Regions from separate parts of the Homo sapiens genome. Here regions 1 and 2 are each reported to be linked to region 3. Evidence: microRNA targets listed by miRTarBase, many of them from high-throughput screens and not tested one by one. Region 3 holds a microRNA gene; each other region holds the end of a gene's coding sequence.

The links. Region 3 holds the annotated microRNA hsa-miR-671-5p (AGGAAGCCCUGGAGGGGCUGGAG, at 2,094-2,116, opposite strand). A microRNA usually pairs through its seed, bases 2 to 8, with sites in the 3' UTR of a target mRNA and lowers its output. Matches are read on the target gene's strand: a 7mer-m8 pairs with bases 2 to 8, a 7mer-A1 pairs with bases 2 to 7 and ends in A, and an 8mer does both.
Region 1: miRTarBase lists NACA as a target of hsa-miR-671-5p. The part of its 3' UTR that is shown has no 7-base or 8-base seed match.
Region 2: miRTarBase lists FBXO36 as a target of hsa-miR-671-5p. Seed matches in the 3' UTR shown: 8mer at 1,929-1,936.

What each region holds. Positions count from the first base shown.
Region 1 is chr12:56,709,488-56,712,739 of GRCh38, reverse strand. NACA (nascent polypeptide associated complex subunit alpha) reads left to right here. Exons shown (of 9, transcript NM_001365896.1): 9 at 188-313. The coding sequence ends at 202. Among named protein-coding and RNA genes, the nearest start is that of NACA, 14 kb to the left of the region's middle.
Region 2 is chr2:230,010,385-230,013,636 of GRCh38, reverse strand. It overlaps FBXO36 (F-box protein 36), which reads right to left. Exons shown (of 4, transcript NM_174899.5): 4 at 518-2,941. The coding sequence ends at 2,753. Among named protein-coding and RNA genes, the nearest start is that of SLC16A14, 57 kb to the left of the region's middle.
Region 3 is chr7:151,237,313-151,240,564 of GRCh38, reverse strand. MIR671 (microRNA 671) reads right to left here and starts at 2,144; the gene lies at 2,027-2,144. It overlaps CHPF2 (chondroitin polymerizing factor 2), which reads right to left. Exons shown (of 4, transcript NM_019015.3): 4 at 1,743-3,191. The coding sequence ends at 1,884. It overlaps SMARCD3 (SWI/SNF related BAF chromatin remodeling complex subunit D3), which reads left to right. Exons shown (of 13, transcript NM_001003801.2): 9 at 43-140; 10 at 318-453; 11 at 819-941; 12 at 1,068-1,169; 13 at 1,409-1,785. The coding sequence ends at 1,462. LOC124901779 (a long non-coding RNA gene) reads right to left here and starts at 904. Exons shown (of 2, transcript XR_007060596.1): 1 at 813-904; 2 at 1-546. RefSeq lists an enhancer at 1-1,014.

The DNA of each region.
Region 1 (3,252 bases), not on the chromosome of region 3:
TTATGAGTGACTTTATTTTGTCTTGCTAAATATCAGCCAATTAAGGAACCTCATTCCAGAGCCTCTTCTGAGTTGCCGTATAGGTTTTAGTGGCCTAAATTCTCCTGATTTGCCTGTAAGAGTTTTAGTGACCTGAATTCTCCTGATTTGCCTATAAGAACCGCTAATTATCTTTTCTCTGTTACAGGAATTAACAATGTAACCATATGGAAGCAACTTTTTTTGGTGTCTCAAAGGAGTAACTGCAGCTTGGTTTGAAATTTGTACTGTTTCTATCATAAATAAAGTTATGGCTTCTTGTTGGATGAATTCAGTCGGTGACTGGTCTCTTCCCCGCCACCCCCCCACACCAAAAAAAAAAAAAACTTAAAAAGGTTCTAGTAATTTATTAATTACTCCTAAGGCCTCCCTCATTTGATAAGGTTTAGTGCCACAGATTTCCCACTTAGAATCTCAGACTTTATACCTCTTTTAAGAAGTTACTGGCCAGGCGTGGTGGCTCACGCCTGTAATCCTGGCACTTTGGGAGGCCAAGGAGGGGGCAGATCACGAGGTCAGGAGATTGAGACCATCCTGGCTAACACGTTGAAACCCCGTCTCCACTAAAAATACAAAAAATTAGCCGGGCGTGGTGGCGGGCACCTGTAGTCCCAGCTGCTTGGGAGGCTGAGGCAGGAGAATGGTGTGAACCTGGGAGGCAGAGCTTGCAGTGAGCCCAGATCACGCCACTGCACTCCAGCCTGGGCGACAGACAGAGCAAGACTCCATCTCAAAAAAAAAAAAAAAAAAAAAAAAGTTACTATACTAGGCTGTTAGGACCTTCTTAACTTAAGGAAATACAACTTGACTATAAAGTTTCTCATTTCTGACCAGGCGCGACGGCTCACACCTGTAATCCCAACACTTTGGGAGGCCAAGGCAGGTGGATCTCTTTAGCCCAGGAATTTGACACCAGCCTGGGAAACATGGCAAAACCCCGCCTCTACAAAAAATAGGATCACTGAGTAATCCCTGAGATCACACCACTGCACTCCAGCCTGGGCGACAGAGTGAGACACTGTCTCAAAAAAATAGTTTCTCATTTCCACTTTCTTTCCCAGATGTTAACTGTTAGCAGATCCCGATTCTTCTGTATCTAGTAATCAGCCCCTTCACTGAACTCCAATCTTTCTGAATGCACACTGGGGCTTTTGTGGCCTCTGAGGAGTTTACATTGGTTACATATCGACATGTAAGAGCTTGGTACAGGGTTGAAGAGAAAGTTGGAGGTACATGAAAAAGCTACCTCCTGAAGGGGAAGATTTTGAGTATATTGTAAACTTTCTGCTCTTAAGCATATTCTCTACAGACATTTTAATCTACAAAGTAGCTTCTGATTAGGACAGCCATAATTACATATTAGGACAATAAATGAAAACTAGGACTCTCCCAGGCTAACTAAAACATAACAGTTAGTTTACAGATAGCTACATAGGAATTCCAAGAAAAACTCAGTTTGGGTTGTCAGAGAATGGTTTGGAGGAAATCAAAGGGCTACAATTTAGAAATGGGAAAGTTACAAGTAAATGTAGAGGCAAGAATCCTGAAATGAACATGTGAAAATACACCTAGAAGGAATATGTTAGAATGGGAATAAATGTGGCTAACATCTAAAACTGGGCTTTAGAACTAAAGGAGTTAAGACATTTTTATAGAATTCAGTCTTTTGGTCTCCATAAAAAATGAGGCCGGCCGGGTACAGTGGCTCACACCTGTAATCCCACCAACTTGGGAGGCTGAGGCAGGCAGGGCAGGCGGGTCACAAGGTCAGGAGATCCAAACCATTCTGGCTAACACAGTGAAACCCCATCTCTACTAAAAATAACAACAAAAAAAAGGGCAGCGCGGTGGCTCATGCCTGTAATCCCAGCAGTTTGGGAGGCCGAGGCGGGTGGATCACGAGGTCAGGGGTTTGAGACCAGCCTGACCAACATGGTGAAACCCCGTCTCTACTAAAAACAGAAAAATTAGCTGGGCGTGGTGGCGGGCGCCTATAATCCCAGCTACTCAGGAGGCTAAGGCAGGAGAATTGCTTGAACCCGGGAGGCAGAGGTTGCAGTGAGTCAAGATCGCGCCACTACACTCCAGCCTGGGCGACAGCGAGACTCCGTCTCAAAAAAAAAAAAAAAAATACAAAAAAAATTAGCTGGGCATGGTGGCATGCGTCTGTAGTCCCAGCTACTCGGGAGGCTGAGGCAGGAGAATCGCTTGAACCCAGGAGGTAGAGGTTGCAGTGAGCCGAGATGGCACCATTGCACTCCAGCCTAGGTGACAAAGCAAGACTCCCATCTCAAAAAAAAAAAAAAAAAACAGAGGCCAAGGAGGGTGGCTTCTGCCTGAAATCCCAACACTTTGGGAGTACAGGCAGGAAGATCCTTTGAGCCCACGAGTTCAAAACCAGCTTGGGCAACATACAGAGACCTTGCCTCTACAAAAACTAAAAATACTAGCTAGGTGTGATATTGTGCACTTTGGTTCCAGCTACTAAGGAGGCTGAGGTGGGAGGATCACTTGAGCCTGCTCCCTTGACCCTGCTCCCTTGACCCTCGGTGGTCAGGGCTACAGTGAGCCATGATCGCGCCACTACATTCCAACCTGGGCCACAAGATGCCATCTCAAAAAAAAAAAGAAAAAAAAAGGCATTATTTTAGTAGATGTGAGTGAAAGCTGAGGACTAAGGAGTTTATGACTTTCTCAAAGCCACTAAAAACAGCAGGGCCTTTTGTTTCCCCCAGCTAGGAAGTAGTAGGCTGTACTGTGGGAGCACAAATAGAAATCTGAAGATTGGCTCAGAATGAAGACCTTTCATCTCATTTCAAAACAGTTGATTATTTGATGAACAAAATCTCATGAGAAAAAAGGCGCCTAACAGCCAATCTGAGTCAATCCAATAATTATTTCAGGAAGAAATTTAGATACTCATTCCCAATTTTTTTAAAAACAACTATCTTGTTCAAGACCCTTTTTGCATCACTGCAGTAGTGTTCACTACTTCCCACCTCAAGAATCTCACAACATCAGTTCCCCCTTTTCTTCTGCTATTAATTCCTACCTCTCAGTCTTTCTTATTTATTTAATTTTTTGAGATGCAGACTTGCTCTGTCGCTCAGGCTGGAATGCAGTGGCACAATCTCAGCTCACTGCCACGTCTACCTCCCAGGTTCAAGCAATTCTGCCTCAGCCTCCCAAGTAGCTGAGATTAGAGGCCCACAC
Region 2 (3,252 bases), not on the chromosome of region 3:
GAGACCAGCCTGGCCAACATGGTGAAACCCTGTTTTTACTAAAAATACAAAAATTAGCAGGGCATTGTGGCAGGCTCCTATAATCCCAGCTACTCGGGAAACTGAGGCAGGAGAATCACTTGAACCCAGGAGGTGGAGGGTTCCATGAACTGAGATTGCACCATTGCACTCCAGCCTGGGTGAAAAGAGCAAAACTCTGCCTCAAAAAAAAAAAAAAAAAAAAATTGTGTGGCATTTCACTCTGAAATGTTAAGACATAAAGCAGATTTATCCATCCACATGAAAGCAGAAATAGAAATGAAAGCTGTTAATAGAAGCAGAAAGTCAAGACCATCGCTGCCTATTACCATGTTATGGGATCGTCACATGGAACCTCACATGGAAAATGAGATGGGGGAGGGAGGGACAAAGTGTTTCAACCACTGAGGATGCTGGGGAGACACAGGATGTTCACTTGATGATATTGTTCCTATTTTGGCAAAAACAATTGTAATCAAGTAATAAGGCACTCAGATTATTATGGCAAGTAAGTATTAAAATAATTTAATAATCTGTATTATTTTAGCTATTATTTAACAATAGTTAACATATTAATGGCTCTTTTTTTATTTACTTTAGCATTTATTTTTATAACATTTTTATATGTAATATTATTATATACTACATATAAGTATATATCGTAAGTATAATATATATGTGAGTAGGTATATACATAGTGTTTTCAAATTGCCATATTTATGTTCTTATTGATTGAAGCTGAATCAACTATTGCGCATGTCCATAAGCTTTCAGAATCTGTTTGTTGATAAAATACTACACATGAAGCTTTAATCATCTTGCACTGATGTTACCAATAAGTTACAGTTACATATTTATGAAGTTATGTTGACATACGTAATTGTGGTTGTGTCTGCATCCTCACGATAAAACCTACGTTCTGTCATTGAAAATTAGGCCATGAGTGAAGTCTGGGAGCTCAGGGAGAGCCAAGGCAGCTAGAGCTCTGCAGAGCACGTGCCTTCTTGCTCTCAGCTGCCTGCTGGTTACCTTTACCTGTACCTGCCCTAGCAAACTCTCCTAAGTGGAGAATGAGGCCTGGGTCTCTTGACAATTAAAGCTTTGCTCTGTTCTTGGACTAAATCCAGACATAACCACGTCAGGCTCCTCATCTGCTGGGAAGCAGATTGCACTGGATTTCACAGTCACGGAAAACTTTTGACTGTGTGTACCTCCAGCAATGAGAAGCAGAGAGGGCTAGGTTGACGGTCTCAAACTGGCACCGGGGAGCCCCGTGACTGGGTTTTAAGGGTGTGTGAATGAAGATTAAAATCTTGTTTGATATTAACATGGGTTCAGTTTTTTTTTTTAATGTCACTAAGCCATGCTGTAGAGCCCTTCTGGAAGGACTTAGGTGGGACAAAGAGCCAGAGTCCACAACTTCTGTATTGTTCACAGGGCCCTAGTGCATCCTGGGAAGTTTCTCTGGCACCGGAGGTGAGTTTTCCTAGGTAGGAAAGTGAAGGTTGCAGGAAAGAAGAAATTATAAGGCTATATTATAATGTGATGTGGAAGTAGAAAGCTACTTTGCTCTGTAACCTAAAAGGAGTCATTAGATTATTTGCTGCTATGAGTTCATTTTCTAGGGGTACTTAATAATCATGAAAGTGCAGGGAGAAAAACATTTTTAAGTAAGCCTTCTCAGTGAAGTGACCTTTCTCCCCAGGACTGTATTCTTTTTACCCCTCTGCCATGTTAACAGCATGCAAACCATATTTACATTTTTACTTAGTTAACTCATAGTCTGTTTTCTTAAATATCCTTGTTAAAAGTGGTAGCTGTTCACATTCCTTTGGGGAACAGCATTTCTCTAAGAAATGTTTATAGGTTTTAGCCAGACATAGTGGCTCATGCCTGTAATCCCAGCACTTTGGAAGCCAGAGCAGGTAGATCACTTGAGGTCAGGAGTTCAAGACCAGCCTGGCCTACATGGCGAAACTCCACCTCTACTAAAAAGAAAATACAAAAAAAAAAAAAAAAAGAAAAGAAAAGAAATGTTTATAGGTTTATTTAACAATGTGAAGTAGTCCTGGGAAGTTGTACTTTGAGCAAGGTCCGCAAGCAGGATGCCTGCACTTCTCCAGTCATGCTCCAGCACCAGGTCGGAAGCTGTCTACATGCGGGGATGGACCCTGGCATCCTGGGCTCACAAGGATAGGGCCCTGAATATGGACTTAGCAGAACAAAGTTGGGAAGGCAGCTGCACCCACCCTGAGTGCCTCCCGTGGTACGTGCCCTTCACAGTTCCTGGTGGGGACACTCAGCCACCAGCTTCATGGCTGGACGCAGACGACACAATGCCAGGAAAAAATTCAAAAGCCCCATTACCCTTTCTAATGCCTAGATAAAATAGATGTCTAATAAAAACCTGCTAATAATCATTTATTGTTTGTTTATATACAATAGAAACCTCTTTTATAATGGGTGTGGGATAAGGATGATGATGGCCTATGGGGCTCCCTGTCTTACAGCCCTTGTCCTCGGGCCATGATTTGACCTCAGAATGACGGTGACTCTAGCAAGGCACTGGGGAGCCAGACTCTGCTGCATTTGTGTGCAAATCCCCTACGAGTTTCAAATGGCTCCACGCATCAACAAAACCTCTTAGTTCTTAAGAAAAGGAGACAGAAGAGATTTGGACACTGAAGAGAAACACAGCCATGCCTGAGCTCCCTGCTGGTAGGAAAATGTGTGCCTAAGGTTGCTTTTCTCTCAGGTTTCCATATTTTTGTTTCCTCTTGCGGAGCTGCCGCTGGAGCTGGAGCTTGTTGGTGAAGAACAGCTGTCTCCAGCCTGTGTCCTCCGCCAGGGCCCTCACGTCAGGAGTGATGGTGTCGCAGGTCGACTGGACTATCTGTTCCCACAGTTTATCAGACATGCACAGCTGTGGGTGGGAAAAGTCAGAGGTGGGTTACAGCACACATGTGTTAACTCATTATCAAACTCTTGCTGCCTGTGGGACACTGGAGAAACACTACCTGTGCCAGACACAGGTCCTGCCTTGAGAAACCTCCTCTTTGAGGAAAACAGCCAGACACAAATATGTAAGTGCACATATATCTAAAGGACATACCCTTCTGCACACACTTAAACTTCCCAGTGACGGCAGTAGAAAGAACATCCTCCTACCAACACCAGGCAACACAACACTCCCTCGTGCAAGGGAAAATGTGTTATTCTCCACCTTCACCCCCA
Region 3 (3,252 bases):
TCAAGAAGAGTGATCTCTCTCTCCCCAATTGTCCTGCTTCAGATTTTTGATTGTCCCCGGCTGAAGTTTTCTGAGATTCCCCAGCGCCTCACAGCCCTGCTATTGCCCCCTGACCCAATTGTCATCAACCATGTCATCAGGTGAGGTGGCCCCAGCTTGCTTCTCAGACCAGGGAATGATCTCGTTCCTGCCTTCCCTGCCCCTCCCTCTCCTCCCACTCCCATCTCTTCTCCCTCCCTGTTGGATCTGCCCCAGCCCCGGGGCCCTGGGGCCGTATGGGGGCATCGTGGACACGAAGGGCTGGACTTCCCTGGCAGCGTGGACCCTTCAGACCAGAAGAAGACGGCGTGCTATGACATTGACGTGGAGGTGGAGGAGCCATTAAAGGGGCAGATGAGCAGCTTCCTCCTATCCACGGCCAACCAGCAGGAGATCAGTGCTCTGGACAGTAAGGTGGGGCCCAAGCCCAGAGCTGGAGTGGGACATTAACCCAGAGATGATAGAGGAGACTTTTCTGAGACCAGGGTGTGGTTGCAGATGAGCAGTCTGGGTTAAATTAAAAAAAAAAAAAAAAAAGAGACCAGACTCTGGGCCAATGGGACACACATGGCCCGTCCATGCTGCTTGGAGCTGAACCTCATTCCAAGTTTAGTTCTGCCCATCCCCTCCTCCCCTGGGACTTCAGAGAAATCAGGGGCTCTGAGGGGTTGTCCTTCACAGAAGAAACCCCCTCTCCCTCCCCTTCCCACCCGCTTCCTTTCCCCTCGTCTCCCACATCACCAAAGCCAGGTGGAAAGCATCTATCTTTCTACCTGCAGATCCATGAGACGATTGAGTCCATAAACCAGCTCAAGATCCAGAGGGACTTCATGCTAAGCTTCTCCAGAGACCCCAAAGGCTATGTCCAAGACCTGCTCCGCTCCCAGAGCCGGGACCTCAAGGTGAAGAGGGAGACTCAGGGAGTACTGGAGTGGAAGACAAGCACAGCGGGAAAGAGAGTAAACGTTGTACTCCAGGGGCAGGTGAGGGGATTCAGGGCTCAGGGCTCACCCCACGCTCCCTCCCAGGTGATGACAGATGTAGCCGGCAACCCTGAAGAGGAGCGCCGGGCTGAGTTCTACCACCAGCCCTGGTCCCAGGAGGCCGTCAGTCGCTACTTCTACTGCAAGGTATGCAGGGACCCTTGCCCTGAGGCTTCCCCATCCTCAACTCCAAGAGAAACCTCCCTGTTCAGCTTGTGGGCAGCCCTCGCAGCTCCCCACAGTAAAGCTTCACCACGCTGCCTCACCATGCAATGGCCCTCCCTGCTCCCAGATGCTCTTTCAGGGCAGGCGGTGTCAGTAGGTGGGATTGTCCTGATCACTCACCAGAACACTGACACCTGCTCCTGTTCTCACTTCCTCTAAAGATCCAGCAGCGCAGGCAGGAGCTGGAGCAGTCGCTGGTTGTGCGCAACACCTAGGAGCCCAAAAATAAGCAGCACGACGGAACTTTCAGCCGTGTCCCGGGCCCCAGCATTTTGCCCCGGGCTCCAGCATCACTCCTCTGCCACCTTGGGGTGTGGGGCTGGATTAAAAGTCATTCATCTGACAGCAGCCGTGTGGTCATTGGAAACTGGGGAGGGGAGGGGGAGAGAAGGGGAAGGGAAGAAGGTGGGGAGGCAGTGGGTCCCTCGGGACGACTCCCCATTCCCTTCCCTTGGATTCTTCTCCTTACTCAATTTTCCCTAGACCTAAAAACAGTTTGGCAGAAGACATGTTTAATAACATTTTCATATTTAAAAAATACAGCAACAATTCTCTATCTGTCCACCATCTTGCCTTGCCCTTCCTGGGGCTGAGGCAGACAAAGGAAAGGTAATGAGGTTAGGGCCCCCAGGCGGGCTAAGTGCTATTGGCCTGCTCCTGCTCAAAGAGAGCCATAGCCAGCTGGGCACGGCCCCCTAGCCCCTCCAGGTTGCTGAGGCGGCAGCGGTGGTAGAGTTCTTCACTGAGCCGTGGGCTGCAGTCTCGCAGGGAGAACTTCTGCACCAGCCCTGGCTCTACGGCCCGAAAGAGGTGGAGCCCTGAGAACCGGAGGAAAACATCCATCACCTCCAGCCCCTCCAGGGCTTCCTCCTCTTCCTGGCCTGCCAGTTCACCTGCCAGCCGGGCTCGGGCCGCCAGGTAGTCAGCGTTGTAGAAGCAGCCCTCCGCAGAAGCCTGCCGGTCAAATCTCCCCCCTATAGGAGCCCCCCGGGAGGGGTCAGCACCAGGAGGGGAGGGGGGGTCAGGGCCAGCCCCCGGGGGCCCTGGGGGTGATCTCTGTGGTGACAGGGCAGGATTGAACTCCTGGAAATGGACTGGAAAGAAGGCCTGCCAGCCAGAGATGGCATTCATGCGACAGCGGTTGAGGACTTCGGGCCCAGGCCTTGTCCACACGGTGGTAAGGAAGAAGAGAGTGTCCACAGGGTGCTTCTTCGAGACCACGTCCATGAGTCGCACCTGGGAAGGGGCCTCTGCTCGCACAGCGAGCCAGGCCAGCCTCGTCCCAGGGTACCGTCGCTCTAACTCCGCTGCTGCAGCCTTCACCCCAAGAAATGGGTCTGGAGCTCCACGGCCACCTTCTCGTGGCCCGTAGACCAGCAACAGGGTGAGCAATGCATGTTCTCGTGGCTCCAGGACATTGGCTGCAAAGGCCTCGAGGAAAGCCGGGGCTGCAGCAGCTTCAGCCACCAGGAGTGGCAGCACCAGCTGCACTCGGGTGGCCTCAGTGACATAGGGCATAGGTAGGATTTCCACCCGGCTCAGTGGCCGCAGCAGGCTGACCCTGCGAGCCAGGGCCCGCCGGTGCCCACGCTGTGTCACACATTCCAACAGCAGGTCCAGGGTGTACTCCATGCCCCGTGCTGGGTCGAAGCGCCGATAGCCGTTGAGCAGTCGCTGCTTCTGGAAGCGCAGGCGGGGCTGATAGCGCCGATTGAGCTGCTCCAGGGCAGTCTCCAACGCATCACCCACGTCCGCCCTGCTAGCCCCCTGTAGTGGGCACTTGGGAGCCCCATCTGCACAGGAGAAGGTGTGCTGCTCTGTGAAGTAGTCCCAGCCCAGCACCTCAAAGCGAGAGTGTGGTGTGAAAGGAGCAGGGAGCCCAACGGGCCAGCTCAGCCCTGCCTCCCCTTCGGGGGTCAGCACGGTCAGGTTCCGGATCTGAGCCTGGGTTGGAGGGAATGCACCTCACATTAGTGCCAGCTCCAGGATCCTACCCAGCTCCAGC